Regions from separate parts of the Homo sapiens genome. Here region 2 is linked to region 1. The links come from fine-mapping of genetic effects on gene expression. A gene starts in region 1. The other region holds a variant in brackets. All regions are shown on one strand. Distances are from middle to middle. Region 1 holds the start of SLC25A42 (solute carrier family 25 member 42). Region 2 overlaps TMEM161A (transmembrane protein 161A).

Evidence for each region. PIP is the estimated chance that this variant, and not a neighbour inherited with it, causes the effect.
Region 2: its variant is fine-mapped to the expression of SLC25A42 in skeletal muscle (GTEx, PIP above 0.99). The same link has a PIP of 0.9 or more in atrial appendage and left ventricle.

Annotation. Positions count from the first base shown.
Region 1 is chr19:19,054,454-19,070,757 of GRCh38, reverse strand. SLC25A42 (solute carrier family 25 member 42) reads right to left here and starts at 6,764. Exons shown (of 8, transcript NM_178526.5): 1 at 6,643-6,764. It overlaps LOC124904655 (a long non-coding RNA gene), which reads left to right and starts at 7,233. Exons shown (of 3, transcript XR_007067160.1): 1 at 7,233-7,568; 2 at 8,607-8,714; 3 at 9,608-9,932. ARMC6 (armadillo repeat containing 6) reads right to left here. Exons shown (of 9, transcript NM_001199196.2): 7 at 15,362-15,493; 8 at 14,830-14,967; 9 at 12,582-13,342. The coding sequence ends at 13,130. RefSeq lists silencers at 6,593-6,862, 7,123-7,292.
Region 2 is chr19:19,122,330-19,138,104 of GRCh38, reverse strand. It overlaps TMEM161A (transmembrane protein 161A), which reads left to right. Exons shown (of 12, transcript NM_017814.3): 2 at 3,218-3,321; 3 at 4,895-4,975; 4 at 5,351-5,448; 5 at 5,597-5,753; 6 at 7,798-7,949. Among named protein-coding and RNA genes, the nearest start is that of TMEM161A, 8.3 kb to the left of the region's middle. RefSeq lists an enhancer at 1-245. The variant T/C (reference allele first, on the strand shown) is at 3,143.

The sequences.
Region 1 (16,304 bases):
ATGACATCCCCCAAATTCATGTCCACCTGGAACCTCAGAACATGGCCTTCTTTGGAAATAGGGTCTTTGCAGATGCAATCAGTTAAGGATCTTAAGATGAGTTCACCTTGAGATTTAGGGTGAGCCCTAAACCCAAGGACTAGTGTCCTTATAAGAAGAGGGGATCGGCCGGGAGTGGTTCACATCTGTAATCCCAGCACTTTGGGAGGCCGAGTTGGGCAGATCACTTGAGGTCAGTTCAAGACCAGCCTGGCCAACGTGGCAAAACCGTGTCTCTACTGAAAATACAAAAATTAGCTGGATGCGGTGGTGCGCACCTGTAATCCTAGCTACTTGGGAGGCTGAGGCAGGAGAATGGCTTGAACCTGGGAGGTGGAGGTTGCGGTGAGCCGAGATCACACCATTGTACTCCAGCCTGGGCAACAAGGGCAAAACTCTGTCTAAAAAAAAAAAAAAAAAAAATGGCCAGGCAGGGTGGCTCACACCTGTAATCCCAGCACTTTGGGAGGCCGAGGCAGGCGGATCACAAGGTCAGGAGATCGAGACCATCCTGGCTAACACAGTGAAACCCTGTCTCTACTAAAAAAATACAGAAAATTAGCCGGGCGTGGTGGCGGGCACCTGTAGTCCCAGCTACTCTGGAAGCTGAGGCAGGAGAATGGTGTGAACCTGGGAGGTGGAGCTTGCAGTGAGCCGAGATCATGCCACTGCACTCCAGCCTGGGCGATAGAGCAAGACTCTGTCTCAAAAAAATAAAAAATAAAATTAGCTGGATGTGGTGGTGCATGCCTATAATCCCAACTACTCGGGAGGCTGAGGCAGGAGAATCGCTTGAACCTGGGAGGCAGAGGTTGCAGTGAGCGAAGATCGCACCACTGCAGTCCAGCCTGGGCAACAGAGCAAGAGCTTGTCTCAAAAAAAAAAAAAAAGAAGAGGAGATCCAGGAGTGGTGGCCTGCGCCTATAGTCCCAGCTACTCAGCAGGCTGAAGCGGGAGAATCACTTAAGCCAAAGAGTTAGAGGTTGCAGTGAACTATGATCATATCACTGCACTCCAGCGTGAACAACATAGTGAGACCCCATCTCTAAAAAGAAAGAAAAAATAGAGGACACAAAGACACACACAACAGGGAGAAAGCCACATTAATACAAAGGCAGAGACTGGAGTGATGTAGCCACGAGCCAAGAACTTCAAAGTTTGCCCGGAGAAAGGCCTGGGAAGGACTCCCTCAGAGCCTCCAGAAGGAACCAGTCCTGTTGACACCTTCATTTTGGACTTTAGGCCTCCACAACTACGACAGGATACATTTCTGTTGTCTGAAGCCCCCCAGTTTGTGGTAATTTATTATGGCAGCCACGGGAAACGAATATGCAGGGATCTGAGGCCAAGCCTCCAAGTGTTGGCCTGCCCCTCAGCTGGTGGCTTGTCCTCAGCCATTTGCCTGCCAGAACCTCACAGGCTGCTGGGCTGGCAGAGAGCTCAGCAGAAAATCTGGCCAGCAGAGAACTTTGTTGAGCCCCTGGAATCCAAGCATTCTGCCCAAGATGGTAGTAGCAAAAGGTGCTCAGTGAAGAAAACAAATGTTGACAAGCATATTTTAAAAATAGCTCTGTGAACAGGGTGGGGCCTCCAGGGGACATCGTTCTACTTCCTGAGTTGGGTGCTAATTTTATTATTGGTTAAATCTTCTTTCTTTTCACATACATGTTATATACTTTTTTTTTTTTTTTAAAGAGACAGAACCTCACTGTCACCCAGGCTGGAGTGCAGTGGCACAAACCATGGCTCACTGCAGCCTCAACCCCCTGAGCTCAAGTGATCCTCCCACCTCAGCCTCCTGAGTAGCTAGGACTATGGGTACATGCCAACAAGGCCAGCTAATTTATTTATTTATTTATTTATTTATTTATTTATTTATTTGAGACTGAGTGTCGCTCTGTCACCCAGGCTGGAGTGCAGTGGTGCCATCTCAGCTCACTGCAACCTCCGCCTCCAGGGTTCAAACGATTCTCCTGCCTCAGTCTCCCGAGTAGCTGGGACTATGGGCATGCACCACCACACCCGGCTATTTTTGTTTTTATTTTTTTCTTGAGACAGAGTCTTGCCCTGTTGCCCAGGCTGGAGTGCAGTGGCACGATCTTGGCTCGCTGCAACCTCCGCCTCCCGGGTTTAAGCAATTCTCCCTGCCTCAGCCTCCAGAGTAGCTGGGAATACAGGCGCCCACCAACATGCCCGGCTAATTTTTGTATTTTTAGTAGAGACGGGGTTTCACCATGTTGGCTAGGCTGGTCTTGAACTCCTGACATCAAGTGATCCACCTGCCTCGGCCTCCCAAAGTGCTAGGATGAAAGGCGTGAGCCACCATGCCTGGCCCGACATGATATACTTTTTTTTTTTTTTTTTGAGACAGAGTCTCGCTCTGTCGCCCAGGCTGGAGTGCGATGGTGTGATCTCAGCTCACTGCAACCTCCAACTCCCGGGTTCAAGCAATTCTCCTGCCTCAGCTTCCTGAGTAGCTAGGATTACAGGCGCATGCCACTACGCCTGGCTAATTTTTGTATTCTTTGGTAGAGACAGGGTTTCACCATGTTGGTCATGCTGGTCTTGAACTCCTGACCTCATGATCTGCCCGCCTCGGCCTCCCAAAGTGCTGGGATTACAGGTGTGAGCCACTGTGCCCGGCCAATATACTTTTTATGAAGAAGTATTTCATGTTTAAAATAAAAAATGCAAATGCACTTTTAAAAGCTCTGTCTTGCAAAACCCAAACGAGCGAATGATTCTGATTATCTCAATAATCCCCTCTTAATGTCTAACTGCCAAAATAGAAGAGACAGACAAAAAAAACTGTATGACACGTGGGCAGAGGCCTGACTTCAGTATGACGACACCCTCCATCTGGCACCAGTGGTGAGAAATTGGACAATTGGAGAGAGTCTCGAAACAGCTTCCCAGACAGATTTAACATCTGACTCGTCTCAATCTCTCATGATGCCCTCATCTTTCTTTTCCTAGACCCAAGTGAAAAAAAAAAAAATCAGCAACAGCTAAATGGTTCTTCTAGCAACTGTTCTTGTTGAGGTACCTTGAGCCAAAATCTCAGCACCACCACTGCTCCCTGCTATAGGGACAAGCTTCACAGAGCAGGAACTCAAAAAAAATTTTTTTTAACAGAAAAACAGGGTCTTGCTCTGTTGCCCAGGCTGGAGTGCAATGGTGCAATCATAGCTCACTGCAGCATTGAACTCCTGGGCTCAAGCAGTTCTCCACCTTAGCCTCCCAACTAGCTGAGACTATTTACGCACGCCACCACGCCCGGCTAATTTTAAAATTTTTTTTATAGAGATAGGGTTTCACCATGTTGCCCGAGCTGGTCTGAAACTCCTGGGCTCAAGCAATACACCTGCCTCATCCACCCAAAGTGTTGGGTGGTGTGAACCACTGCATCCAGCCCCAAATATTTCTTGAACTTTAGTCTGACTGGCAGAGAAACAAGTCTAATGTTTAATCCCTACCCCACAAGCCAGAACACCTAAGACAGGGGTAGGAAGCATGGAAGTGATGTTCAAAAGGATCTCTTGTGCTGTTTTTTACCTATCAGATGGGACAGACCACAAAACTTGATAGTAAGATAACTGAGCTGGCCACAGGAGAGGAATCAGGCTTTCCAACTTCACAGTTGAGAGGAGGAGGAGGAATATGCCCTTTTACTTGGCCCTTTTTTTTTTTTTTTTTTGAGACAGGGTCTAGCTCTGTCGTCCAGGCTGGAGAGGAGTGCAGTGGCATGATTATAGCTCACTGCAGCCTTGAACTCCTTGGTTCAAGCAATCCTCCCACCTCAGCCTCCTGAGTAACTGTGGACTACAGGCATGGCCAGCAAGACAGGGGGGTCTGAAGTGTCTGAGCACGGCTGGAGCCCAAATACGTTCAATGTGTATTTAGTACATGCTGATGCATGCATCTATCCATTGCAGCTCTGTTTGTAAAAGCTAAATATGGGCTGCAGTGGCTGGGCGCAGTGGCTCACGCCTGTAATCCCAGCACTTTGGGAGACCGAGGCAGGCTGATCACAAGGTCAGGAGATCGAGACCATCCTGGCTAACACAGTGAAACCCCGTCTCTACTAAAAAAATATGAAAAAATTAGCCGGGTGTAGTGGTGGGTGCCTGTAGTCCCAGCTACTCAGGAGGCTGAGGCAGGAGAATGGCTTGAACTTGGGAGGCGGAGCTTGCAGTGAGCCGAGATCGCGCCACTGCACTCCAGCCTGGGCGACAGAGCAAGAATCCAACTCAAAAAAAAAAAAAGAAAGAAAAAAAAAATATGGGCTGCAGCTTAAACAGCCATCAGTAAGGGACTGGCCTTAGAATGCATATGTCTGCTCAATGCAAATTTACCAGTGGTTTAAAAGGGGTGGGGGATATATACCTCCCCCGACCCCTTTCTGCCACCCCAGTCATAGACTACCTCTGGAAGAAAACATAAGAAATTATCAACAGCAGGTGCATCTGAGGAGGAACGGGGTACAGGCTGGGGAAGACCTGACTGATTTCTACTATGTGACCTTTTGTACTGTTTGATTTTTTCTTTTTAACTATATAATAGGCCGGGTGTGGTGGCTCACGCCTGTAATCCCAGCATCTTGGGAGGCTGAGGCGAGCAGATCACTTGGGGTCAGGAGTGCGAGACCAGCCTAGCCAACATGGTGAAACCCCGTTTCTATTAAAAATACAAAAATTAGCTGGGTGTGGTGGCACATGCCTGTAATCCCAGCTACTCAGGAGGCTGAGGTAGGAGAACTGCATGAACCCAGGAGGCAGAGGTTGCCGTGAGCCGAGATCACACCACTGCACTCCAGCCTGGGCAACAGAGCAAGACTCCGTCTCAAAAAAAACCCAAAAACTATATACTCAATGATCTTGCCAAAGTTTATACACATGTACATATATAACACACACGAAATATGTATATATAAAATATGTATATAAACATATGAATATTATAGGTACATGTACATATGTGTACAACACACACACATATACATACATATATACATACATGCCCATATATGTTTTAAATGACTCCTATTGAAGTTGGACAGAAAACCCAAATGGCTTCAGTTTCCACAGGAGAAGCTGAAGGTGACATGACCCTCTGAAACATTCTGGTACCGTCTTTGCAGGGAGCGGTGGGAGGGGGTAAGAAACGCTCCAGGAGCCTTACAGGAAATGGCACGTTATTGCTTTTCAACAACAAAGCCACTGTCCTCCTTCTATGCTGCATGCTTGCAAATCAGACTCAAGGGAACTAAAAAATTCCAGAAGAATCATTCCTAGCACCACCCAGGCTCGTTTTGCAGGTTAGCTTTAAACAGCTGAAACATTAGTTTGCCTCACTCTAAAGAGTGTTTCCTTACTCTTTATCGGCTTCAAGGGCCCAGGGAGTGTCGGAGAGGGGTCCCGGGTCTGCAAGAGCTGGGAGCCCCGGCCCCGGCAACCCCCTCTCCGGCATCCTGCAGGAGGCACCCAAGATGATGAGCCCCCCTCCTCCGGCAGCGTCTCCACCGCCAGCCTGCCCCAGGACTCCGAGACACACGCTTGGCAGAGGGGCCGTCCCTTCCAGCTAAGCCTTTCCGGACCCAGTCAAAGTCACGACTCCTGCCAATCCCTCTGAGATAAACATAACAGATGGGCCCAAACGCGGTGGGTCCACAGCAGAGGGTCAGCGATGCCCAGGGTAGAATAGGCTCTGCCTCTAGCATTCAAGTGGTTTAGGTCTGTGGCTGGTAAAATGGAGATGATTCCGGTTTGGTCTGACAGATGGGATTATTCTAAGGTCCGGAAATCACTTTATAGACTGTCAAGCACTGTTAGAAATGAACACTGGGGTAAGCTTTTGTTTGGGGAGGGGAGGGTGCAGCGATCCTGAGATACCAAGGCTTGGGGGACTATTGGAGGACCTGGGGGATTCGGGGGGATTATTACAGAGGGTGTGCGAACACAGGTGCACGTGGAAGAAAGCCCAAGGTGGGAGAGAGAAAAGGGGGAGACAGAGGTGTGGGGCTGCCAGGGCAGAGGGCAGGTGCCAGGGGGAAGGTCCCTGAGAAGAGAGACACAGGTTGCTGGGGGAGTGGGCACGAGAGTAGCGAGCAGATACCTGGATATGAGGAAAGGCAGTGGGGGACGGGACTAGGTCCAGGTGTGAGTTGCGAGGCCATGAGTTAGGAGTCACAGGCTCAGGTGTGGGTGTGGGGGTGTCATCGACAAGGACAGACTCAGGTGATGTGGGGGGTGTTCGTGAGTGGGGGCGGGTGTTCGTGAGTGGGGGCGCGGTGTCAGGTGTGTGAGGGGGATGTCAGACCCAGCTGTGCGGGGCGCCGGGGACAAGGCCCCAGGGGTGTGGGAGATGTCAGCAAGGACAGTCTAAAGTGTATGGGGGATGTCAACGAAAAGGGACGTGGTGTCAGGCGTGCGTGGACTGCGGGTGACGGGCTCAAACCTGGATGCAGTAGCCCCCAGGGGGCAGTAGACGTGGAGTGTGGGGTTGGGGGGGGTCTTTAACCTCTTCCTGCCCTCGCGACGCTACTGTCATGCCCCGCCTCATCCGCCCCTCGCCCCGGGATCCATGACAGGACCCGTGCCTCACCTCAGTTCAGCCCGACAGGCGCGGGCCGCTGACGCTTGGGCCCCCCCGGCGCCCCCCGCGCCCCCTCACCGGCCCGGACGCGTCGCCGCCGCCGCTACCTCCAGCCGCCACGGCCCCGCCTCGCGCACCCCCAGAGCGCGCCACGGGAGGGGTCCACGCCACGCCCCGATTGGCTGCTCCCTGGCCAGTCAGCGCTGGAAGCGACAGTGATTGGCGAGTATGAAGCAGATGGGCAGCCCCTAAAGCCAATCGCTGATTGGCAGAGGTGGGGCTATTGGGAGAGGCCTGGGGTGCCTGAGTGGTCCCTCAGGGTGCTAGGCGCTGGGAGGCGAGGGCCTGGAGGCAGGCGAGGATTGGAATCTTGGCAGAAAACAGGCAGAACTGTCGGCCAATCGCTGGGGGCCAGGGGCGGGGCTACGAAGAAACTGGCGCTACCGGTGGGGCAGAGGCGAGAGGAACGGAGGGCGTAGCTTGGGGGGAGACCGGGATTGGCCGCAAAGCCGAAGACTGGCAGGCCCCGCGGCCAGTCGCAGCGGCCGTGGGCGGTACGCCCCCAGGGGAGGGCTGGAGCGTTCAAGGTGCAGTCCGACCCGGAGCGCGGCAACCCGACGTGGCCTCGGACGCCTGGCGCAGGGTCCCCTGAGGCTCTCGTGTAGAGCCCGCCCTCTGGCCACCTAGCACAGAAGCGGATGTGAACTTGGACCATCAAGGCTGAAGGACTCCTGGATAATTCTCTATCCCCTTACTCCCCACTAATCCCCTGCAGACGACACGGAGAGGGCAGATTCGCTGGAGGTCACTCTGAACTGCCCTCTCCATCTCGAGGTGGTGTGAAGACATGGAAATAAGGGGCGGAATCCTACTGAAACGCGCTGCGTGGTTTTCTGAGTGTCTGACCTCTCTGCGTCCCAGCTTTCCCCGCCACGGTATCCAGTGACATCCCTGTTGGGCCTTCTCCCTGCCAAGTCTTTTTTTGAATTAACTGAATCTTAACCACAATCCCATGAGGTCAGAGAGACCACTGGCTCCTTTTACAGAAACCAGAGCACAGAGAGGTCAAGCTCCTTGCCCAAGGTTACACAGCATTCTCTGGTTGCTAAACCAGAGAATGAATCTAGAGCAGCCTGCTTTTTGGAAAGAGTGTGTCAGAGAAGAGCCACTGGGGGCCTCAGAGACCTGGGTTTGAATCCTTGTCCAATCACTGGCCCACCACACAACCTTGGGCAAAAGCCCTTGTGAGCCTCAGCTGTTTCATTTGGAAAAGAGGGGGGAAAATGATTCCTATGCCTTGATCTTTCCTCTCTGGGGTTGCTTCCCTGGGAAAATTTACAACTCAGCTCTCATTTTAATTATCTGGTGAAAGCATTTGACCCTGAGCAGGTCATGTGCGGCCTGTGAGCCTCAGCTCCTCTGTGAAGTGCAGAAAAATGCCGGCAGTTTAGGGAGACACCTGCCATCCCAGGCATGGCTGTGTCATCGGCACCTCCCCCGAAGCCACTCTGTTCTATGACTCACCCTTCATCTTCAGGATGGAGAGGGCTACAAATGTTTCCAGATACCAGCTCTTATTTCCTCTAGGTGCTGGCCAGGGTTGGTGGAGATCAAGTTCAGAACCAGGGAATCCTGGGAGGGAGCAAGGCTGAAACCAACCTTAGAAAGGGCTCACATTTCAGGGCTGCACAAGCCCCTGCTAAGTGTGTGATCCACAAGTTTCAAATGGGGAGGATGTGACGGGAAATCACTAGCCCAAGGCCATCATCAAACTCCTGATATTCTCACGATATGCCTACCTGGACCTCCTCTCCCATACCTCCCACCTGTGGTTTGCTTCCTGGCAACTTCCAGGATCTGGCCTCCATTCTGCCCTCCAGAGAAGAGGGGGAAGCTGAGGTCAGTTGAACATCAATTGGGTGCCAGGTCCCCACTGGGCTTTCTCCAATACCATCTCCCCACCTCACTTCCAGGTGGACGTGACAGTGCCCACTTAGCAGATAAGAAAACTGAGCCTATGGTGGAGAATATTCCTTGGTGGAAGGACCCAGGGCTGAGTTTGAATCCCTGCTCTTTTTAACGTAAGTAATGGCCAGTAACAGCCACAGGACCTTCAGCAAATAACACAAGCTCCCCACTTCAGTTTCCCGGCTGTCTCCTAGGGCTGATGTGAGCATTGATGAAATGGAAGCAAAACACTTACAATGGCTTCGTCCACAGTAAGCACTCATGGAAGGCTGGTGATGATATATTGTTCTTCTCTGGGCCTGTTTCCCTCTCTGTAAATAGCGCTTCATGGACACAGACCAACTATGGGCGTGGCTTGCCACACCAAGAGGGAGATATCTACGCCGAGGAGCGCCCACTCCCAGTGCCCACCTGCCAGGCCCTGGGAGGGGGAGGTAACAAAGCTCCTGGAAGGTCCCACAGTGCCTCCAGGGACAGAGCCAACTAAGGCAAAGGTCAGGCTCTGGCCCAGCCTGGGGCTGCCTCTCTAGCTTCTGCTCGTTCTTTAGCAGGCTGGCGCCAGCCAACCTCCCTACCGCCTTCCAGCAATGGCAGGCAAAGCACCTTGGCAATAGCAATGGACACCCCCACCATGGGCACTCATGTAAGCCCAGCTAGGGTGCCCAGGATCTCGGCTCTTCTGCTTTGGCTGGCCAGCCCTGGACAGGACACTGCCTCTTCGCCCTCCAGTCTCCTCTACCTCTTGGGGATCCCAGGAATCATCTGTGAGCCAGGCCCTGGCACAGCGTCCAGGCCTAATCACCTGAGGCCCAAAGGCCTTTTGCCCAAGGTCAGGTTAACAGCTTTGGAAAAAGATGAGGGGCCTGGAGGCAGGCCAAGCTGTGGTCTCATCCCACCGCAGCCCCTCAAATGCCCATGAGTCTATTTCCTATCTGGAAAATGAGGTTTAGTCCAGCCTCTGGGAGATGTATGTTCACAACAGAAAAAATCTGTGTTCCTTTCCCAGGAGCCCAAGCCCATCCCTGGCTGGAGGGAGACATCCTGAACACAGCAGTGACAACAACCAAGCCTGGCTGGGGTCAGAGTGGCCTCATTCACCTCCCAAGGCTCAGATAAGTCAGGCCACTTCACCAAGAGCCTACAGTAGCAGAGGCGTGGCCTGAACACACTCGCACCATCCTTGCAGCAGGCTCCACCTCAGCCCAGGTCTCGATGTCATCAAGGAGGACAGCAAAAGCTACTTAAGAGAAGGCCAGGGCCGGGTGCGGTGGCTCACGCCTGTAATCCTAGCACTTTGGGAGGCCGAGGCGGGCGGATCACGAGGTCAGGAGATCAAGACCATCCTGGCTAACAAGGTGAAACCCCATCTCTACTAAAAATACAAAAAAATTAGCCGGGGGTGGTGGCAGGCGCCTGTAATCCCAGCTACTCAGGAGGCTGAGGCAGGAGAATGGTGTGAACCTGGGAGGCAGAGCTTGCAGTGAGCCGAGATGGCGCCACTGCACTCCAGCCTGGGTGACAGAAAAGGGAAGGCGACGGGGATGGGGGCTGGGGGGAGTTATGTTCTGGACATCCCCTGAAGCGCGCCTTTCTAGGGGCTGTGGCCCTCCAGTGTGCCAGATCTAGCCTGAGTTCAGATGAGAAGGCCGAGGCTCACAGACGGGAGGTGATATGCCTGAAGTGGCCGAGGGGGGATGGAAAGCCAGGCCATAACCCCAGGGAAATGTGAGATCTTTGGTGAGGGGCCCCCACCCAACCTGAGGCTGTCCAAACATGCTAGCTGCATCTACTGAAGACACCCACTTCCTTGGGCTAAGGTGGGAGGGACAGATAAGGCAGAACCACCCCTTCCTGAAGAAGCCTGCAGCTTGGCCCAGGCCCAGGGGAGGACGCTGGGGCCACCTGGCAGGGACCTCGAGTGCTTGTCAGTTTATTCAGGTGAACACTCAAAAACACTGACGGGAAGCTGAAGGCACAGCAAGTGGGGACAGGGGCCTCCCTGCAGGGAGCCAGCCGATGGTGGGGGCAAGACAAACAGGAGAGTTCACAAATGAGGTGACCTCAGATGGGGCCCAGTGTCAGAGCCAGAGCACATGAGGTGATGAGATGGGGGTCTCTCCTGGAGAAGGCAACGTGAGCTGAAACCTCATGTGCTAGGAGGAGCCGGCCACGGGGAAGGCCAAGGGAAGGGCACTTCTAGGCAGAGGGCATGGCTTGTCACATGGGGGCTTGTGCAAAGGCCCTGGGGTGGGGGAATAGGGAGTGAGTACAGTGGAAAGACTGGGAAATGGGCAAGGCCTGGGCCATACTGGGTCTGCAGGGCATGAAGTGCATTTTTTTGTTTGTTTGTTTGTTTTTGAGACAAGCTCTTGATCCGTCACCCAGGCTGGAGTGCAGTGGTGCCATCCTAACTCACTGCAGCCTTGACTCCTGGGCTCAAGTGATCTTCCCGCCTTAGCCCAAGTTGCTGGGACCACAGACAGGTTTGGTTTTATGTAGAAGGCAAAGGGGAGCCATGGGCAGACTGAGAGCAAGGCTGGAGCAGGAATGACAGGGCCAGCACTGCAGGCCGTCCTCGAAATAGCTCAGGAGCACCTACCCCGCCACATGACAGATGAAGAAATGCTTGAGAACTGCCCAAGGTCACACTGGCCCAGAAGTTAAGTCAGGGCAGTCTGGGGCAGATTCGAGATCTTTCTCCCACATCCTGGGAGTCTCCAGGGAGGAGGGATAGGGCGGGGTGACTGGGTCAGAGGTTTGGGCCAGCCCTGCTGAGCTGAGAGCACCCTTTCCTGCTGGGGGCAGGGGAGACGGGGACACCACGGAGAGGTGCAGCCAGGGTGACGCTCCTCAGCTGTTTGCATCGGCTGGATTCCACGGAAGCTGGGGGCCTGCTGGGAAAGGAGTGTCCCTGAGGTCAAGGACTGAGCCCAGGCCATCCTGGGGCTCGGGGAGGCACATGACAAGCAGGGGCGAGGGTCCAAGAGGGGAGAGGCCTCCAAGGTGTGGGCAGGAAGGCTAGGGCACACACCAGTGGTCATGAGGCTGCCCGGACCCCCGTGAGGCCACAAGAGATGCACAAGCCACCTAGTGACCACGGTGTGACCTCTGAGTGTGACTTCAGAGCAGAAGAGCTGGGGTCTGCAGGGCCACAGCTGTCTGGGCACCCCCAGAATGCTTGGGGTGGGGTGGTCACTGAGGGCAACAACAATGATGTCTTTTTTTTTTTTTTTTGAGACAGAGTCTTGCTCTGTTGCCCAGGCTGGAGTGCAGTGGCGTGATCTCAGCTCCCTGCAACCTCTGCTGCCCGGGTTCAAGCACTTCTCCTGTCTCAGCCTCCCAGGTAACTGGTATTACAGGCATACGTCACCACACTGGGCTGATTTTTGTATTTTTTTAGTAGAGACGGGGTTTCACCATATTGGCAAGGCTGGTCTCGAACTCCTGACCTCAAGTGACCCACCCACCTCAGCCTCCCAAAGTGCTGGGATTACAGGCATGAGCCACCGTGCCCGCCGATGTCTATCTTATAGATGGGGAAATCGAGGCTCAGAGACAAGAGGTTGGGTACCTAGGACACCCAGCCTAAGACAACTGGACACCCTCCATGTGCTCAGCCTGGTCCAACACCTCTCAGAGGGCGATCTATCACTGCCCCACTCCTCACTTTAGGAGGAGCATATTGAGGCTCGGAGAGGTTCTTTCACTTGCTCAAGGCCGCAGAGCTGAGTAGGGGATGAACGTGGAGCCCTCCGGCCCTGCAGGTGGTACACGTCAGAAACAGTGATCCTGACCATGGCCTCAGCGCCTGCCTGTCTGAGGGTGACAGCAGATCCTAGATCCCTGGCTGTTCCCAAAACCCCTTTGCTATCCTCAGTGACTCCATGGCCCCCCCCACCAAAATGTCTGTCTCTCCCCCACACTCTGAGGCCACTGACTGTGGCCCCCCATGCTCAGCCAAGCTATGGAAGAGACCCCTCCGCTGTTCACCCAATGATCTTTTATTATCAGGTATCCTGGCTGGCCCAGGACCCAGAGACAGACAAGCTGGGGCCAAGCAGGGCGGAGCATCTGAGACCCATTTTACAGGTAAGAAAGACAAGGAGCAGAGGCCTGCATGAAACTGCAGTAAGCAGCAGGCGCCAGGGGGCCCAACCCCACTGGAATCGCCTGCCCTGCCCTGAGCCTGGCCCACAGTGGCTGCCACATTTCAGACAGGGCAGTGAGTGATGGGACGTGCCCTTTGCCCCCTCTGGTAGGGCGTGGGGCTGGGGGAAGGAGCAGGACAGTAACATCCGTGCTGCTGGCTGGGACCCAGAAGTGGCTGGGACATGGGGGCTGCTTTCTTCTGTGTAGAGGCCTCCCTACAAGGCTCCCCCCTCCCCCGACCCTTTACCTAGGGCCTGCCAGAAAACACTTCTCATTGTGAAGGGGACAGAACTAATGGGGGACAGTGGAGGACATGGATCTACCCCCATTCCTGAGTCACACGACTCACCCAGAGTCACGGCCCAGACTGGGCCTGGGGTCATGGCGCCAGGTTGCCCCTCTGGCCTGTCCACAGCTCTCGGAGCTCGACATGACAACCCAGGTCCCGCAGGGCGGCCTTGGCCACGTCCTCACAGTCACGGTGGGCAGATCGGGCCTGCATGATGAGTGCCTCAGCCCCCAGGTCCAGGATGGGCTTCGAGAAGGCCTGGCCGTGGGCCACCAGGTTTCGGATCAGCATGCAAGCCTGTTTCTGTAGGAGAGAGCAGCTGTGAGCTGCCAGATGGGGCTTTGGGGTGGGGTCCACTCTGACCTCAGGGTCTTCATCATAACAAGATGGAGGTGATCATAACCACAGCTGACATCCAGCAGCTGCCTATACTGTATCAAGCTAGACCCATCTCTCTACTTTACCCTCTTGGCAGCCCCACAAGGCATGGCTAACTCCCAGGCAAGGAAACAGGCTCAGGGAAGCTCCAGGATCTATCCTATGGCTTTGGAACTCTCAGCCTCAGAGTTGGTGAGCCTGAGGTCCCCCGAGGCTGGCACAGAGCCAAGGAAGGGGCCCTAGGGCAAGGGGGCAGTGAGGCCACGGGAAGACAGTGGTTGTGCACAGGCACCTGTCAATTACATCCCTACCCATTCAGTGGACATTTGTGCCCTGTGCACCTGCTGTGGGTGGGCGCGGGGCACTGCCTGGAAGCTTCCCAGGGTGGCTCCCACCACCAGCAGGACAGCAGGTGGGAAGCGCATGCAGAGTGGGGAACTGCTGGCCAGGGTGGCCAGAAGTGGACAAGGGGTCAGACCAGGTAAGGGTCAGTGTCCCAGAGTAAGAGCCAGCGAGAGCAAAGGCCCCCTGTGGGTCCCAGCCTGGTGTGTCCAAGAATCCTATGCTGGGAGTGAGGAGGCGAGGAGGGCCCCGGGGGCTGCACGGAGGAGTCTGGGTTCAGCCAGGGAGGTGTGGACAGGGTGTCCCACACTCAGAACTCAGACCAGCAGCCCAAGGAGGGGGCAGAAACCTTTCTGAAACCCCAGGCAGATCCCCATCCACGCTTCCCCAACTTCTTTCTCCCCAGATCTCTCTATAGGGACTTTTAAAAAAGGAGATTAAGGGTGCGGTGGCTCACACCTGTAATCCCAGCACTTTGGGAGGTGGAGGTGGGTGGATCACCTGAAGTCAGGAGTTCGAGACCAGCCTGGCTAACATGGCAAAACCTTGTCTCTACTAAAAATACAAAAATTAGCTGGGCGTGGTGGCCCATGCCTGTGATCCCAGCTACTCGGGAGACTGAGACAGGAGAATCGCTTGAACCCAGGAGGCAGAGGTTGCAGTGAGCTGAGATGGCGCCACTGCACTCCAGCCTGGGCGACAGAGTGAGACTGTCTCAAAAAAAAAAAAAAAAAACCCACAGAAGGAGATTACGTGTTATAGCTTTCTTTCCAGGGTTTCACCAGAAAGCCCCTCCAAACTACCCCCTCCCCAAAAAAGGAGAGTAAATGCAGAAAAAACAAAGGCAGAGAAGGAGGCAAATGAAGGCAGAATTCAGCACATTTTGCAAGATGAGAAAGAAGTTGGCCCTATGGGGCTCGGCTGTGGGAGGGACAGGGACAGGGATAGGGATAGGGACTGAGCCTTTGCCCCATCACCCACCCGCACACCGCACCTGCTCCCATGCCCTCTCTGCACCTACCTGCACATCCCACACCAGCCTGCCTGCCCCCATCCCCTGCCCTGCCCACCTGCACGCCGGCCTTCTGCGGGTGTGCCTTCATGGCCTGCAGTGCTGCCACAGCCCCGCCACCCTCCACGATGATGCGGCTGTTGTCGGGCTTACGCAGGGCCAGGAAGCACAGGGCCGCGCAGCTCTGCTCACACACCTGCAGGGGCCAGTCACAGAAAGGCTGAGATGCAGCAGATAGACCCCCCACAACATCCTGCCATGGCCACCAACCCCTGGTGAACACCCTGCGGCCTCCCCTCCGTGGGTCTCTGGCAACTCCTGTGTAATAATGGCAGGGTGACAAAAATATCAGCTCAGCTCTTAGGGGTGACAAGGGCAATAGGCCTGGTCAGATCTTTGCAGGGTGCTGGTGGTAACTCCAGGACACCCAAAGTCATGCATACGCAGGTCAGCATTTGAGAGCCAATGCCCACGACCCTCACCAGCCCTGCCCTGGCCCTGCAGGGGAATAGAGCTTCATGCAGATACAGAAACTGAACTGGGACTCCAGCCACCACCCTGCTACTGTGTGTGCCCCCCGAGGTGGGTACCTGGGGGCTGGTCAGATGCTGGGTCATAGCAGCCACGATGGACTCCGTCCCACCAGCACGGACAATAGCATCTTTCACGTCGTCGTTGCCTGCGATGGCTCGCAGGGTGCTCAGCACTTGCTTCACGAGCTCCTGCACAAGGGAAAGGCCCGCTCACCTCCAGCCAGGCCGCTGGTTGTGGGAGAGGGCTCTGAGGGAGAATGTGGGGCTGTTTTGCTGTTTGACCAACAGGTATGGTGTGACTGCAGGGTGTGACTAACGAGAAGGGGTGGCAGATGCCTGTGGCTCAGGCTGCCTGTGTCCAAACGGTACCATCCAGGTGACTTGATCCCCTACCCCGACAGGGGCAGCGGGGGCATGTGACTCAGGCCGGCCTTCAGAGCACAGGGTCCCCCTGTCCACGGCCACAGACCCAGGGTAGGCGCTAACTGCCCTGCACTGAGGACAGTGGATGAGGTGCTACTGGGACTGCTGATCCCCCGATGGAGAACCTGAGGACCCTGCCCCCAACTGCCCAGGAGTACAGGGCAAAATGTATCCCTTCATTTGCTGAAGTTGGTTCCCATTCAGCTCCTGGCCACTTGCACAGAAAGAGGCTGGCTGACGTCAACAGCTGGGCTTGGGGGCGCAGGACCGTGGCACCCCTGGGGGCTTTCCTGCAGCTGCAGCTGGATAGGGAGGCACCTGTTGATTGGCTCCCTGCTGTGGATGGGCACATGGAGAAGGGCTCAATAATCGGCTGCTAAACGGAGTAATGAGTAGGGACACTGCTCTATTCTGTAGCTAGGGAAACTGAGGCAGAGGTGCGGGAACTAACCCAAGTATCCCAGCCTTGGCCGACACACCCCAACCCTATGCTTCCTACCATCCTTTTCCTGGTGCAAAAGGACAATAAGGGAGAGCAGGTGGGTTTGTTTCCCCCCCGACCTTTGGTTCCTGCCCT
Region 2 (15,775 bases), 68 kb before region 1:
ACATTTGGAACCTGGTTAAGGCGGTGTGGGGTCCTGTTGGGGGTCCACTCTGGGGACGGGGGTCCTGCAGGAGCGTGGGGGCCGCGCCGACAGGATCCATCGGGGGTCCCTGCTATATCGGGGTGTGTGGAACGGGCAGGGGAGGCCGTGGGAGGTGGACTCAGGAGGTCTGGTTGGCCTCAGGGCGGGCAAGGTTCTCAGAGTGGGAGACAGGAAAGTTGGAACCTTCAGGTCTCACGCGGCTCTGGGTCCAACCTATTGAGTGTGTTCTTAAAACTTAGCCCAGCCCCTGGGGGTCAGGCTGGTGCAGGGAGATGGGGGACTCCCACAACCCTGACGGGACCGGCCTGGGCAGAGAGAGGGACGTGGAACTGGAGGGTCTCTGCCTGGGACCATCCCCGAGGAGGGGCGCTGGAGATGGCCCTGAAGGAAGGGCACTGATGGCCGGAATTATTGAAAGTGGGGCGTCGTCCCAGGCGGAGGTGCAGGACGCCGTAGGAGATGAAGGCACAGGCTCCCGGGAATGAGGAGGGAGGCTGCATTGATTTTATCAGGGTTCTTGAGTTCGAGAATCGTAAATCCAGTGAAGGGAAAAGAAGGAGCTGATGGAAGACTCCAGAAAATTCTTGCAGATGTCTGCAGAGCCCTGACCCTGAGACAGGAGGCTGGGTGGAGGGCAGGGCCATCAGAACATCCCTGGACAGACCTCTGGGAGCCTTAGGTGGAGAGATGCACCCCTCCACCACCTTTTCCCTTGGGGGGTTTTGGGGGGTGGTGGGGTCATTGATGAAGAGCCCAAAGGTCCAGGAAGACCTCTGAGACTCCAGTGGTTGGGTGCAGGGAGGGCTGAGGAGAGAGCTGAGCTGTGGGGAGGTGGAGGGATGGTCTCTAGCTATGCCTGCAGGGTGCAGAACCAAGTTGGGGGCTGACTGTGAGACTGGGAAGGGCCTGAACCACCTGGAAGGGTATGGGATGATGGGTGAGTGCTAGGGTCTCCCAGGAGAGCCTGGAGGAGGCTACTGGTTGAGCTCAGCAGAGAGGTCTGGGCTGGAGGTGTCACCGTGCTGAGGTTTTGATGGGCTGGCTGATTGGGTGGTTAAAACCCTGGCAGGTCACAGGAGAGAGGTCGGAGAGAGAGGAGAAAAACAGACTGGGGGGTGGGAGGGCAGGGTCCTAGGGGAAGGGTGGGGCTTCAACAGCCCTGACCCACTGGCTTGCAGGGGCCCATGGGCTGGCACTCATGGTCCCTAAGTGCCAGCCAGCCAGTCTGCACTAGGGTCCCGGGGAGGGCGAGCAATGAGGACTTAGAGATGAGAAAGATGCCGCCACCAACCTCATTACTGAAAAAAGATTTCTGGTCTCAGTTTACAAGTCACAGGTACAGAGAAAATGTCCTATTAGTCTGTTATTTTATGTATTTTTATTTTATTATTATTATTATTTTGTTTTGAGACAGAGTCCCACTCTGTTGCCCAGGCTGGAGTGCAGTGGCACAATCTCGGCTCACTGCAACCTCTGCCTCCCAGGTTCAAGCAATTCTGCTGCCTCAGCCTCCCAAGTAGCTGGGATTACAGGCGCCCACCACCATGTCTGGCTAATTTTTGTATTTTTAGTAGAGACAAGGTTTCATCATGTTGGCCAGGCTCGTCTCAAACTCCTGACCTCAAGTGATCAGCCCGCCTCAGCCTCCCAACATGCTGGGATTACAGGCACGAGCCACCGCACCTGGCCTCAGCAGTCATTTTGAATTACCGTGCTAGGCCCGGTACCCATCACATTAGGGTTTTTCCGACTAAATTTAGCTTATTTATGCCTGATTAAAGGATTATTTTCATAATTAATTTTACTATTAAATAAACTTTATTTCATTTTGATGATAATTCCAGAACACTAGTAGACAGCTCTCCTGAGCACATAATTTTACATAATTATGTAATTACTGGCAGCAAATGGGTATTTACTGCATTCAAGCAGGAAAACCCAGCTTCACCACAGACTGATTCTTCTAAAACGTTTAAAAATAAGTATATGAAAATGTGTTCTGAATTAAGAACTGGGTGAGAAAATTCCTAATTAAAAAAAAAAAAAGCCTTAGCTGGGTGTGTTGGCACATGACTGTAGTCCTAACTACTCGGTAGGTTGAGGTGGGAGGATCACTTGAGCCCAGGAGTTTGAGACCAGCCTGGACAACATAGCAAGACCCCATCTCTAAAAATAAAAATAAAAATAGGCCGGACACAGTGGCTCACGCCTGTAATCCCAACCGTTTGGGAGGCCAAGGCAGGAGGATTGCTTGAGCCTAGGAGTTCAAGACCAGCCTGGCAACATGGAGAAACCCTGTCTCTACAAAATAGACAAAAATTAGTTGGGTATGGTGGCGAGTGCCTGTAATCCCAGCTACTAGGGAGGCTGATGTGGGAGAATCACTTGAGCCTGGGAGGTTGAGGCTGCAGTGAGCACCCCAGCATGCCACTGCACTCCAGCCTGGGTGACAGAGCAAGACCCTGTTCTCCCCACCACTCCCTTGCCAAAAAAATAAATAAATAAATAAAAATAAATAAGCTCACCCCACTCAGACATGTAGGTCTTCACACCAAAACAGGAGGTGGCCAGGAGCATAGACGCCCTTTCAAGGAGGTTAATTACAAAGGGAAGAAGAGGGAGGAGGGTGATGGAACCATCAGGGATCACTTAAGGTGGGAGACACTTAGGGGAAGGAGCTACCAGGTGAAGGAGAAAGCTAGAAGCTCAACCGAGACGCAGTGGCTCCCTAGGTGACAGTGTGGGGTGCAGAAGGCGGTGGGAGCCGCTTTCACTGAGTGTGGCGGGCTCGTGGTTAGGGGCTGGAAGGTGGTGGTGAGGAATACAGGAGACTACATAGGAAGCACCCATTTCCAGATGAGAAAACTGAGACTCCGGGAAATTAATATTATACCTGAATCCATAGCGGAGGCGGGAGGCAAATCCCATGGTCTCCACTGCCCTACACTCCCGCTAGGTGGTGAGGGTGGGTGTTGATCTCTGACGTGGGAGGGCAGGGCCATGCTAGGTGAGTCCAGACTCACCCCAGGACTCTCCCCTAAGAAGCCGCTAGAGCCTAAGAGGCTCGCCCTTCCCCCATCCAGCCTGACTTCTCTATAAA[T/C]AGCCTGGGTTCCTAGGGAGGGAGGGAACTTGTGACCCTCTGGCAGGTGCTGCCAGTCATGTCCCCTCCCCCCAGGCGGTCCTCGGAGTACAGCTGGTGGTGACCCTGCTCACTGCCACCCTCATGCACAGGCTGGCGCCACACTGCTCCTTCGCGCGCTGGCTGCTCTGTAACGGCAGGTGAGCCCCGCCCCGGCGGTGGGAGGGGCCCGCGGAGTCACGCCCCCTTCTGGCTCCCCACGCCCCGCCTCACAAATTGCAAAGCCTTGATTTTGGTTGGTGGGTGGTGGGGGGAAAAACGTTGTTGAGGTGTAATTGAAGTACAACAAACTGCATATATTTGTTTTTTCTTTTTCTTTTTAGAGACAGGGTCTCACTCTGTTACCCAGTCTGGAGTGCAGTGACCTGATCATAGCTCACTGCAACCTCAACCTCCTGGGCTCAAGTGACCCTCCTGCCTCAATCTCCTGAGTAGCTGGGACTACAGGTGTGCGCCACCATGCCCAGACAATTTTTAAATTTTTAATAGAGATGGGGTCTTGCTAAGTTGCCCAGGCTGGTCTCAAACTCCTAGGCTCAAGCGATCCTACCACTTTGGCCTCCCAAAGTGCTGGGATTACAGGCGTGAGTTCCCATGCCTGACACAAACTGTATATATTTGAAGTACACAGTTGGACTAGTTTTGACAGGTGTACACATGTGTGGAACCATCACCACACTCCCCACGTCCCTCACTCTTCCTGCCTCCCTGTAACCCAGCCTTCCTTCCACCCCTGCATCTGCTAGAGCTCGCCTGCTCTGGTTTTTGTCCTTGCGTGGGTCTGTGATGCTTTCTGAGAATCTGGTGGCAACTGAATTCTCTCCTGAGAAAAATGTATGTGACAAAAACAAAGGCAAAAAAAAAAAACACGTCAGAGATGATAGCTCAGGCCCATAATCCCAACACTGGGGGAAGCCAAGGTGGGAGGATCACTTGACCAGCCTGGGCAACATGGCAAGACCCTGTCTCTACAAAATATTTTAAAAATTAGCCAGGTATGGTGGCTCACGCCTGTGATCCCAGCTAATCAGGAGTCTGAGGCAGGAGGATCGTTTGAGCCCAGAAAGTCAAATCTGCAGTGAGCTGAGATGGTGCCACTGTACTCCAGCCTGGGCGACAGACCAAGGCCTTCTCTCAAAAACAAAAAACAAAGGCCGGGCGAGGTGGCTCACACCTGTAATCCCAGCCCTTTGGGAGGCCGGGGCGGGTGGATCACTTGAGGTCAGGAGTTTGAGACCAGCCTGGCCAACATAGTGAAACCCTGTCTCTGGTAAAAATACAAAAATTAGCTGGGCATGGTGGCGCATGCCTGTAGTCCCAGCTCCTCGGGAGGCTGAGGCAGGAGAATCACTTGAACCGGGGAAGTGGAGGTTGCAGTGAGCCAAGATCATGCCACTGCACTCCAGTCTGGGTGACAGAGGGAGACTCTGTCTCAAAAAGAAAATGAAAAAGAAAAGAAAAGTTGCACACACTGGCTTCCCCAGGAGAGTTAGCCAGCAGATTCAGGGGTATCCAAGCCCCCGGAGCCCACTCAGCCTAGATCTGTTGGTCTCACGATTTCCCCAGAATTTCCCCATGCTGTACCCTCACCTACCTCCCAGTGTTCCCCTGGCCTAGGCTACCCTCTAACTAGAATCCCTGGATTTGGGGTTCACTGCCTCAACCTCCCAACCCCACGCCTGAGCTTCCCTGACTGCCCGTCCTTGCTCTCAGTTTGTTCCGATACAAGCACCCGTCTGAGGAGGAGCTTCGGGCCCTGGCGGGGAAGCCGAGGCCCAGAGGCAGGAAAGAGCGGTGAGTGACCTGGGCCCCAGCCCCAGCCTTGGGAGGGTGGCTCCTCCCCAGGAACGGCCTCACCCCTGCTCAGGGGGCTCTGGGCTCAGGGACACAGGACCGGCCCACCCATACTTCCAGGCGCTGATCTGGGCACAGGTGAACCGGGAGACCCTAGTCCAAGGAGATGGTCACTGTCAAGTTAGCATCTGTTTCCTGGCAGTTTGCTCTAGCCAGTCCTGTGGGTGGGTGGGGGGATCCCCATATCCCAGTGTGCAGAGGAGCCAAGGTTGTGGAAAGAGATGGTCTCCAGGCCAGCTGCTCTGAGCTCTGAGGGTGGCTGGCCTCAGTGGAATGCGTGCTCACCGTCCCTCTTGCTTGTCACCATCCTCCCAGGTGGGCCAATGGCCTTAGTGAGGAGAAGCCACTGTCTGTGCCCCGAGATGCCCCGTTCCAGCTGGAGACCTGCCCCCTCACGACCGTGGATGCCCTGGGTAATAGCCCAGTCCCATCCCTAAACTCTACTCCCTCAGCCCTGAAGGTCTCCACACCCTCATGGGGGTGGGGAGGATTTGAAGGAAGAATGTTCTATTAGGAGGGGAGCGAGCTGGGCCCCAGGGCTGAGCAGAGTGCCCCCCACAGTCCTGCGCTTCTTCCTGGAGTACCAGTGGTTTGTGGACTTTGCTGTGTACTCGGGCGGCGTGTACCTCTTCACAGAGGCCTACTACTACATGCTGGGACCAGCCAAGGAGACTAACATTGCTGTGTTCTGGTGCCTGCTCACGGTGACCTTCTCCATGTATCCTTCCTCTCTGCTCCCTGCCAGTGGGGCGGGTGGGAGCAGGACCTGAGCTTCCCTGGCTCCCCTAAACTGGTGTGGCAGTTTTCACCTGCTGTGCCACAAACTTCCCCAAGCTTAGTGACATGAAGCAGACATTTTATGTGCTCCAGCTCTGTGGGTGGACAGACTGGGCTGGGCTCAGCAGGTCGGTTCATCTCCACTCCACATGGTCATGCCCTTTGGTGGCAGTAGAAATGCCAGGAGGCAGGAGGGAATGCCTTGCCCAAAGTCACCCACCCCATCCCTATTCTTTCTACCACATTCTCCTTGTTTAAGGAAATCACCAGGCCAGTCCACAATCAGGGCCAAGAAAGATATGGTCCCTTGGCAAAATTTTAAAAAATATATACTCCAGGCATGGTGGCTCATGCTTGTAATCCCAGCACTTTGGGAAGCTGAGGCAGGCGGATCACCTGAGGTCTGGAGTTCAAGACCAGCCTGGCCAACATGGTGAAACCCCGTCTCTACTAAAAATACAAAAATTAGCCAGGCGCGGTGGCTCATGCCTGTAATCCCAGCACTTTGGGAGGCCGAGGCAGGTGGATCATCTGAGGTCAGGAGTTCAAGACCAGCCTGACCAACATTGAGAAACCCCTTCTCTACTAAAAGTACAAAAATTAGCCGGGGGTGGTGGTGCATACCTGTAATCCCAGCTACTCAGGAGCCTGAGGCAGGAGAATTGCTTGAACCCGGGAGGTGGAGGTTGCAGTGAGCCAAGATCATGCTATTGCACTCCAGCCTGGGTGACAAGAGCGAAACTACATCCCCCCAAAAAATTGTGTGTGTGTGTGTGTGTGTGTGTATATATATATATATGTGTGTGTGTGTATGTATGTACATGTATATATATTTGTTGTTGTTGTTGAGACAGGATCTTGCTTTGTTGCCTAGGCTGGTCCTGATTGGCTTCAAGTGATTCTCCTGCCTTGGCCTCCCAAAGAGAGCAAATACATGACTTTGGGGACCCAAGTCTGAGGAAGCACAGAAAGAATGCTACTCCTGTGACTTTTGGAGTGGGAAACCTGTCTTAAAATCCACTGGTTCCCCAGATTCCCATGCTTTTTTGTTTTTTGTTTTGTTTTGTTTTTTGAGATGGAGTTTTACTCTTGTTGCCCAGGCTGGAGTGCAGTGGCATGATTTAGGCTCACTACAACCTCTGTCTCCCGGGTTCAAGTGATTCTCCTGCCTCAGCCTCCCAAGTAGCTGGGATTACAGGCATGCGCCACCATGCCTGACTAATTTTTGTATTTTTAGTAGAGACTGGGTTTCACCATGTTGGTCAGGGCTGGTCTCAAACTCCTGACCTCAGGTGATCTACCTGTCTCAGCCTCCCAAAGTGCTGGGATTACAGGCATGAGCCACTGCGCCTGGCCTGTTGTTGTTGTTTGAGACAAGATATCCCTCTGTCGTGCAGGCTGGAGTGCAGTGGTGCAATCAGGGCTCACTGCAGCTTCAAACTCCTGGGCTCAAGCGATCCTCCCACCTCAGGCTCCCCAGTAGCTGGGACCACAGGGGCTACCACAAAATTATTTTTTGTAGAGATGGGGGTCTCACTATGTTACCCAGGCTGCTCTTGAACTCCTGGGCTCAAGTGATCCTCCTGCCTTGGCCTCCCAAAGTGCTGGGATTACAGGCATGAGCCACTGTGTCTGGCCCCCATGCTGCATTTTGACAGCAGATTGGAGATGAAGCCCTTCTATATCTGATTGCTTTTCCAAGGGATGTGAAGTAGGTGAGGTGGGTGAAAGAGGCAGGGTCACCCAGGGCGGGAGGCTGTACAGACACGGTGGCCTGATGAGGCCATCTCCCACTCAACGGGAACCCCCAGCCCACATCCTGATCTGAGATCCAGCACCCCAAAACCGAACTCCTCTAGGTCATCCCCAAGGCCTATTTGTGCAGCAGTGCTTGTTCCCTGGAGTTCTGGGGTCCCAGACGGAGTGTGGTGAAATGGGCAGAGTGGGGCAGTGGCACCTGAGGCCTCCTTAGCTCCAGCCTCCAGCAAGATGTTCCTGACAGTGACACGGCTGTACTTCAGCGCCGAGGAGGGGGGTGAGCGCTCTGTCTGCCTCACCTTTGCCTTCCTCTTCCTGCTGCTGGCCATGCTGGTGCAAGTGGTGCGGGAGGAGACCCTCGAGCTGGGCCTGGAGCCTGGTAAGTGCAGCCCCCAACGTGGGGCCACCGCAGCTGTCACTCCCTCATGTAATCTGACCAAGATGGTTTAACTGGCTCCGTGTCCAGCACGAGTAGGCAAAGGAGTGGGCTCCTGGGGTGAAGGCAGTCCCCATTAGTGACCATCTCAGCTCCTGAACCTTGTTGGGCTTTGGGGAAGACAGGACATTGCCTCTCTCACTGTCTCTGATGGACACTCATGGCTATAGCTCTTTTTTTTTCTTTTTTTTTTGAGATGGAGTTTCACTTTTGTCACCCAGGCAGGAGTTCAGTGGCATGATCTTGGCTCACTGCAACCTCTGCCTCCTGCATTCAAGTGATTCTCCTGCCTCAGCCTCCCAAGCTGGGATTATGGGTGTGCACCACCACGCCTGGCTAATTTTTGTATTTTTAGTAAAGATGGGGTTTCACCATGTTGGCCAGGCTGGTCTCAAACTCCTGACCTCAGGTGATCCACCCACCTCAGCCTCCCCAAGTGCTGGGATTACAGGTATGAGCCACTGTGTGTGGCCTCTTTTTTCATTTTTTTAAAAAATTATTTATTTATTTATTTTTATTGAAACAGGGTCTCACTATGTTGCCCAGGCTGGTCTCACACTCCTGAGCTCAAGCAGTCTGCCCGCCTCAGCCTCCCAAATTGTTGTTATTACAGGTGTGAGCCACCGTGCCTGGCCTCTTAAATGATCCTTTTAACATATAATTTGGACCTCATCACTTCTCTGCCCGGCACCACACTCCCCCGGTCTTAGGAGAAAGACCATAGCCCTCACCATGGCCCACATGACCCTGCTGACTGCTTGAGTTTTACCTTCTCCAATTCTCCCTGCCTTTCAGTTTTTAAAATTATATATGTTTGATATATACAAAGAAGATGTGTATGTCAATTATAAAGCAAAATAATCATATGAGTACCTGCAAACCTACCCCTCAAATAATAAGTAGGTGGGGTAGTGACTGCACCAATCTCCCAAGGGGGCGGCAGTAAGGTTTAAATGAATCAAGATCCATGGATAGGGCTTGATTTTTGCCAACCTAGCCCTCGTCACATGGAATGATGCCCTCTGTGGCCTTAACATGCATGTCTCTGATTACCAGGGAAGTTGAGCACCTTTTCCTGTTTATTCATGATTCATGTCTCTTCTGTGAAATTTTTGTGAAATACCTGTTCACATTGTTGCCCATCTTTGAATCTTTTTTCTCTTTGAATTTTTTTTCATTGTGGTAAAATAGACAAAACATAAAATTCACCATCTTAACCATTTTTAAATGTGCAGCTCAGTGGCATTAAGTATATTTAGATGGCCGAGCATGGTGGCTCATGCCTGTAATCCCAGCACTTTGGGAGGCTCAGGCAAGCAGATCACCTGAGGTCGGGAGTTCAAGACCAGCCTGATCAACATGGAGAAACCCTGTCTCTACTAAAAATACAAAATTAGTCGGGCGTGGTGACACATGCCTGTAATCCCAGCTACTTGGATGGCTGAGGCAGGAGAATTGCTTGAACCCAGGAAGCGGAGGTTGTGGTGAGCCAAGATCGAGCCATTGTGCTCCAGCCTGAGCAACAAGAGTGAAACTCCGTCTCAAAAAAAAAAAAAAAAAAAAAATGTAGGCCAGGTGTGGTGGCTCACATGTGTAATCCCAGCACTTTGGGAGGCCAAGGCAGGCGGATCACAAGGTCAGGAGATCAAGACCATCCTGGCTAACATGGTGAAACCCTGTCTCTACTAAAAATACAAAAAATTAGCTAGGCTAATGGCACACGCCTATAGTCCCAGCTACTTGGGAGGCTGAGGCAGGAGAATGGCGTGAACCTGGTAGGCGGAGCTTGCAGTGAGCTGAGATCGCGCCACTGCACTCCAGCCTGGGCGACAGAGCAAGAGTCCATCTCAAAAAAAAAAAAAAAAAAAAAGTCTATTTAGATGTCGTGCAACCATCACCACCGTCCATCTCCACAACTCTTTGCTCTTGCAAAACTGAAACTCCAGCCCATCAAACACTAACTCCCTGTTCCTCCTTCTTGCAGCCCCTGACACCCACCATTTTACGTCCTGTCTCTGTGAATGTGACCACTCTGGGTTCCTCATATAAGTGGCATCATACAGTATTTGTCCTTTTGTGACGTGCTCATTTCAGTTAGCACAATGTCCTCAAGGCATATCCATGTTGTAGCAGGTGTTAGAATTTTTTTTTCTTTTTTTGAGACAGGATCTCACTCTGTCACCGAGGCTGGAGTGCAGTGGTGCAATCACAACTCACTGCAGCCTTGATCTCCAGGGCTCAAGTGATCCTCCCACCTCAGCCTTCCAAGTAGCTGGGACCACAGGCACATGCCACCACACCTGGCTAATTTTTAATTTTTTTTTTTTTTTCTGTAGAGATGGGGTCTTGCTATGCTTCTCAGGCTGGTCTCAAACTCCTGGCCTCGAGCAGTCCTCTCACCTCCGCCTCCCAACGTGCTGGGATGACAGGCGTGAGCCACTGGGCCCAGCCAGAATTCCATTTTTAAGACTGAACACTGCCAGGCACGGTGGCTCACGCCTGTAATCCCAGCATTTTGGGAGGCCAAGGCGGGCGGATCACGAGGTCAGGAGATCGAGACCATCCTGGCTAACATGGTGAAACTCCGTCTCTACTAAAAAAAATACAAAAAATTAGCCGGGTGTGGTGGCGGGTACCTGTAGTCCCAGCTACTCGGGAGGCTGAGGGAGGAGAATGGTGTGAACCCAGGAGGCGGCGCTTGCAGTGAGCTTAGATAGTGCCACTGCACTCCGGCCTGGGTGAAAGAGCAAGACTCCATCTCAAAAAAAAAAAAAAAAAAAAAGACTGAACACTATTTCATTGTCTGGGTGGAACACATTTTGTTTATTCATCCACAGATGAATGCTTGGGTTGTTCCCAACTTTTGGCTTTTTGACTAATACCGCTGTGAACCTGAGTGTACAGGTATCTCTTTGAGACCCCATTTTCAGTTTTGGAGAGTATATATCCAGAAGTGGAACTGCTGGATTATATGATAATTCTACTTTTAATTTTTTGAGGGACTGCCATACTGTTTTATACAGCAGCTGAACCATTTTATTTTATTTTTGAGACAGAGTCTCATTCTGTTGCCCTGGCTGGAGTGCAGTGGTGGCGTGATCTCCACTCACTGCAACCTTTGCCTCCCGGATTCAAGTGATTCTCATGCCTCAGGCTCCCAAGTAGCTGGGACTACAGGCTCCCACCACCACACCCAGCTAATTTATTTTTTTATTTTTATTTTTATTTTTTGAGACAGTCTCCCTCTGTCACCCAGGCTAGAGTACAGTGGCATGATCTTGGCTCACTGCAACCTCCACCTTCCAGGCTCAAGTGATTCTCTTGCCTCAGCCTCCCAAGTAGCTGGGATTACAGGTGTGCGCCACCACACCTGGCTAATTTTTGCATTTTTAGTAGAGATGGGGTTTTGCCATGTTGGCCAGGCTGGTCTTTAACTCCTGACCTCAGGTGATCCTGCCCATCTTGGCCTCCCAAAGTGCTGAGATTACAGGTGTGAGCCACCACATCTGGCTACACCCAGATAATTTTTGTGTTTTTAATAGAGACAGATTTTGCCATGTTGCCCAGGCTAGTCTTGAACTCTTGAACTCAAGCAATCGCCAGCCTCGGCCTTCCAAAGTGCTGGGATTACAGGTGTGCACCACTGTGCTCAGCCCATTTTATATTTTATATTCCCAGCAGCAGTGCACAAGTGTTCCAAATTTATCCACTTCATTGCCAATACTTCTTTTGTTTTCATTTGACCACTATTTGCATTATTTTCCGTCTGCATACATGCATCACACTTTCTTTGCTGAGTCGTCAAATGTAGTTGTAAGTGTCACCTCTAGTGTCTTGATGAATGGAAGTTGATTATTTTAGTTGATATTTGTCTTGAAAAATATCCTTCCCTAAAATCAGAAAGTCATTCTACATTGTCTTTTTTTTTTTTTTTGAGACAGAGTCTCGCTCTTTCCCCCAGGCTGGAGTGCAGTGGGCGATCTCTAGTATTTTTTACTAGAGATGGGGTTTCACTATGCTGACCAGGCTGGTCTTGAACTCCAGACCTCAGGCAATCCACCCGCCTCAGCCTCCCAAAGTGCTGGGATTACAGGCGCGAGCCACCGTGCCCGGCCTACTTTTTGTATTTTTTACTAGAGATGGGGTTTCACCACGTTGACCAGGCTGGTCTTGAACTCCAGACCTCAGGCAATCCACCTGCCTCAGCCTCCCAAAGTGCTGGGATTACAGGCGCTTGCCACCACGCCTGGCTGAAATATTTTAGAAGAAAATATAGAATGACTGGCCAGGGGTGGTGGCTCATGCCTGTAATCCCAGCACTTTGGGAGGCCGAGATGGGCACATCACGAGGTCGGCAGATCGAGACCATCCTGGCTAACACCGTGAAACCCCGTCTCTACTAAAAATACAAAAAATTAGCCAGGCGTGGTGGCAGGCGCCTGTAGTCCCAGCTACTGGGGAGGCTGAGGCAGGAGAATGGCGTGAACCCGGGAGGTGGAGCTTGCAGTGAGCCAAGATCGCGCCACTGCACTCCAGCCTGGGCAACAGAGCGAGACTCCGTCTAAAAAAAAAAAAAAAAAAAAAGCTGGGCAAGGTGGCATGCACCTGTAATCCCAGCTACTCGGGAGGCTGAGGCAGGAGAATCACTTGAACCCCGGAGGCAGAGGTTGCAGTGAGCCGAAATCACGCCATTGCACTCTAGCCTGGGCGACAAGAGCAAGACTCCATCTTAAAAATCAATAAATAAAATATTTCAACTTTTACATTTCATATAAGCTCCTAAACTACTCACTGTTGCTGATGGACAGTGACATTAATTTTTGTGTTATCATATAGGGGTCAAATTTGAGTGTCTCCACGGACTAACCTTGCTAAACAATTATATTTTTATTGAATTGCAGATTCTTTTTGGTTTTCTTTTGTTCTGTCTGATCCTTCCCCTTTGGTGTGGCTAGGACCTCTGGATTTGAGAACAGTACTGGCGTACCTCCTTTTCTTGTTTCCAATTTCTCAGTTAGCTACTTGGCTCATAAATTTTCAATCTTTTCTAATTTTATAGCATATATAGCATTTAATGCTATATATATTTTACCAGGTCTCACTTTTGTTCACCTAAGTTTTTTTTTGTTTTTGTTTTTGTTTTGAGATGGAGTTTTGCTCTTGTCACCCAGGCTGGAGTGCAACTGTGCAATCTCAGCTCACTACAACCTCTGCCTCCTGGGTTCAAGCAATTCTTCTGCCTCAGCCTCCTGAGTAGCTGGGATTACAGGTGCACGCCACCACGCCTGGCTAATTTTTGTATTTTTAGTAGAGACGGGGTTTTACCATGTTGGCCAGGCTGGTCTCAAACTCCTAACCTCAGGTGATCCACCCACCTCGGCCTCTCAAAGTGCTGGGATTACAGGTGTGAGCCATCACACCTGGCAGTTTACCCAAGTTTTGACTGATATTTTTTATTATTCTGTTTGGGGTGTTTTAACATTTCCCTTCTGATTTCTGTAGAGATGGGGTCTTGCTATGCTTTGACCTATGGATTATTAAATATTTTTAAATTTTTCAAACATAGATCTTTAAAAAATACATATTTATTTCTAGCTCAATTGCACAGATGGTCTATTTGAAATAATTTCTTTAAAATTTGGTAAGATTTGCCCTATGGCCTGGAATGTGATCACATTTTGTGACTATTCCTTGTTTTCTTGAAGGACATATTCTGTTTTTGTTGTTTTGCCTTTTTTCACATGTTCTAATTGAAGGACATATTCCCTGGCTCTATGAGTTTAATAAATTCAAATCTCCATCTTGCCTAACCTTTTGTCTGTGACTTATCAGTCAGCAGAAGTTAATCTCCCTCTGGGACAAGAGAGCTCTCAATTTCCCTATCAATTCTGTCAGTGTTTTCTTTATATATTTTGCAGCCTATTCACAATTCACAGATTAGTTCTATTCACAGATTTAGAACTGTTACATTTTCCTGGTGAATCAGCCATTTTATCATGATGTATGGAACCCTTCTGTCTTCTAATACTACTTTTTTTTTTTTTGAGACAGAGTTTTGCTCTCGTTGGCCAGGCTGGAGTGCAGTGGCGCAATCTCGGCTCACTGCAACCTCCACCTCCTGGGTTCAAGCGATTCTCCTGCCTCAGCCTCCCAAGTAGCTGGTATTACCCGCCACCATGCCCAGCTATTTTTTGGATTTTTAGTAGAGCCAGGGTTTCACCATGTTGGCCAGGCTCGTCTCGAACTCCTGACTTTGTGATCTGCCCGTCTTGGCCTCCCAAAGTGCTGAGATTACAGGTGTGAGCCACCGCGCCTGGCCTATTCTAATACTACTTCTTAGTCTAGTTTGGCTGGTAGTAGTATAGCCTTTCTAGCTTGCTTTCTTTTGATTAGTATTTGCTGTATCTTTTTAACATCCCTTTACTTTCAGTCTTCCAGTGACTTTATGTCAAGGTATGTCATCCTTTAAAAAACATGTAGCTGGATATTTTCAATGTAGTCTGACAGTCTTTGTCATTTAACTTTAAAGTTTAGTCTACTTACATTTATTGTGATTACTGACATATTTGACTTTGTTTCTACCATCTTACTTTTTTGCTTTCTATTTGTTCCTTTTCTGTTGTTGCAGTTGACATTGGCTGTCAGCCTAATTGTTGTTCCTTTGTAGGTGATCTGTCTTAACTCCCTGGCTGCTTTGTAATTTTTTTGTTTTTGGTGTTCTGCAGTTTCACTCCATTATGTCTAGGTATGGATTTCTTTTTATTTACATGGTTTGATATACTTTGTGTCTGTCTTTCATTCTGCAAACTTCTCAACCATTCTCTTCCAGTAATTCCTTTTATTCTTCATTCCTTCTCTTCCCTCCCTCTGGGGCTCTGATTTGATTTGCGTTGGGCTCTCTGTTCTGTCTTCCTTATCTCTTAGCCTCTCTTCATATTTCTCACCTACTTGTTTTTCTGAGTTGGAATCTGAGTGATTTCTTCAGATCTGTCTTCCAGTTCATCACTTCCTCCTTTGGCTGTTCCTAATGTGCTGTTTAACAACCTATTATTTCAATACTTACAGTTTTCCTTTGGAAGAGTTTAATTTGGTTCCTTTGCAACTCTACCCAGTCATCTGAAGGAATTCTCATGTCACTTGTTCTGTGATTACAGCTTTCATTTCCTTAGTCATTTGACACATAATTGACAGCACCAATTTCTGAAGTCTTTGAGGCCTAAACTTGACTGTTGTTTTTCTGTTAACTCTCCTTTATGGTGATTTGTTTCCTTATGCATTTGGTGATTTTGCCTGTGAGCTCATATGAATTTGCTCCTTTTTTTTTTTTTTTTTGACAAGGTCTTGCTCTGTGCTGGAGTGCAGTGGCATGATCTCAGCTCACTGCAACTTCCACATCCTGGGCTCAACCCATCCTTCCCACCTCAGCCTTCACAGTAGCTGGGACTATAGGCGTGCACCACCACCCCTGGTTTTGTATTTTTTGTAGAGATGGGGGTTTTGCCATGTTGCCCAGGCTGGTCTCAAACTTGTGAGCTCAAACGATCCACCCGCCTTGGCCTCCCAAAGTGCTGAGACTTACAGGTGCAAGCCACTGCACCCAGCCCTGCTCTTAATTTTTGAAAAATCTTGGGTCCTGAATTGAGGATTCCTTCCTCCAGGAGGACTTTGGTTTTCTCCTGCAGGAGTCCTTCATCCCCCTCTAGATTCCTTCTATAACCTAGGGAGCTCAGGCTCAACAGATACCCCTGAATGTTCCCAGCCCAATCAGG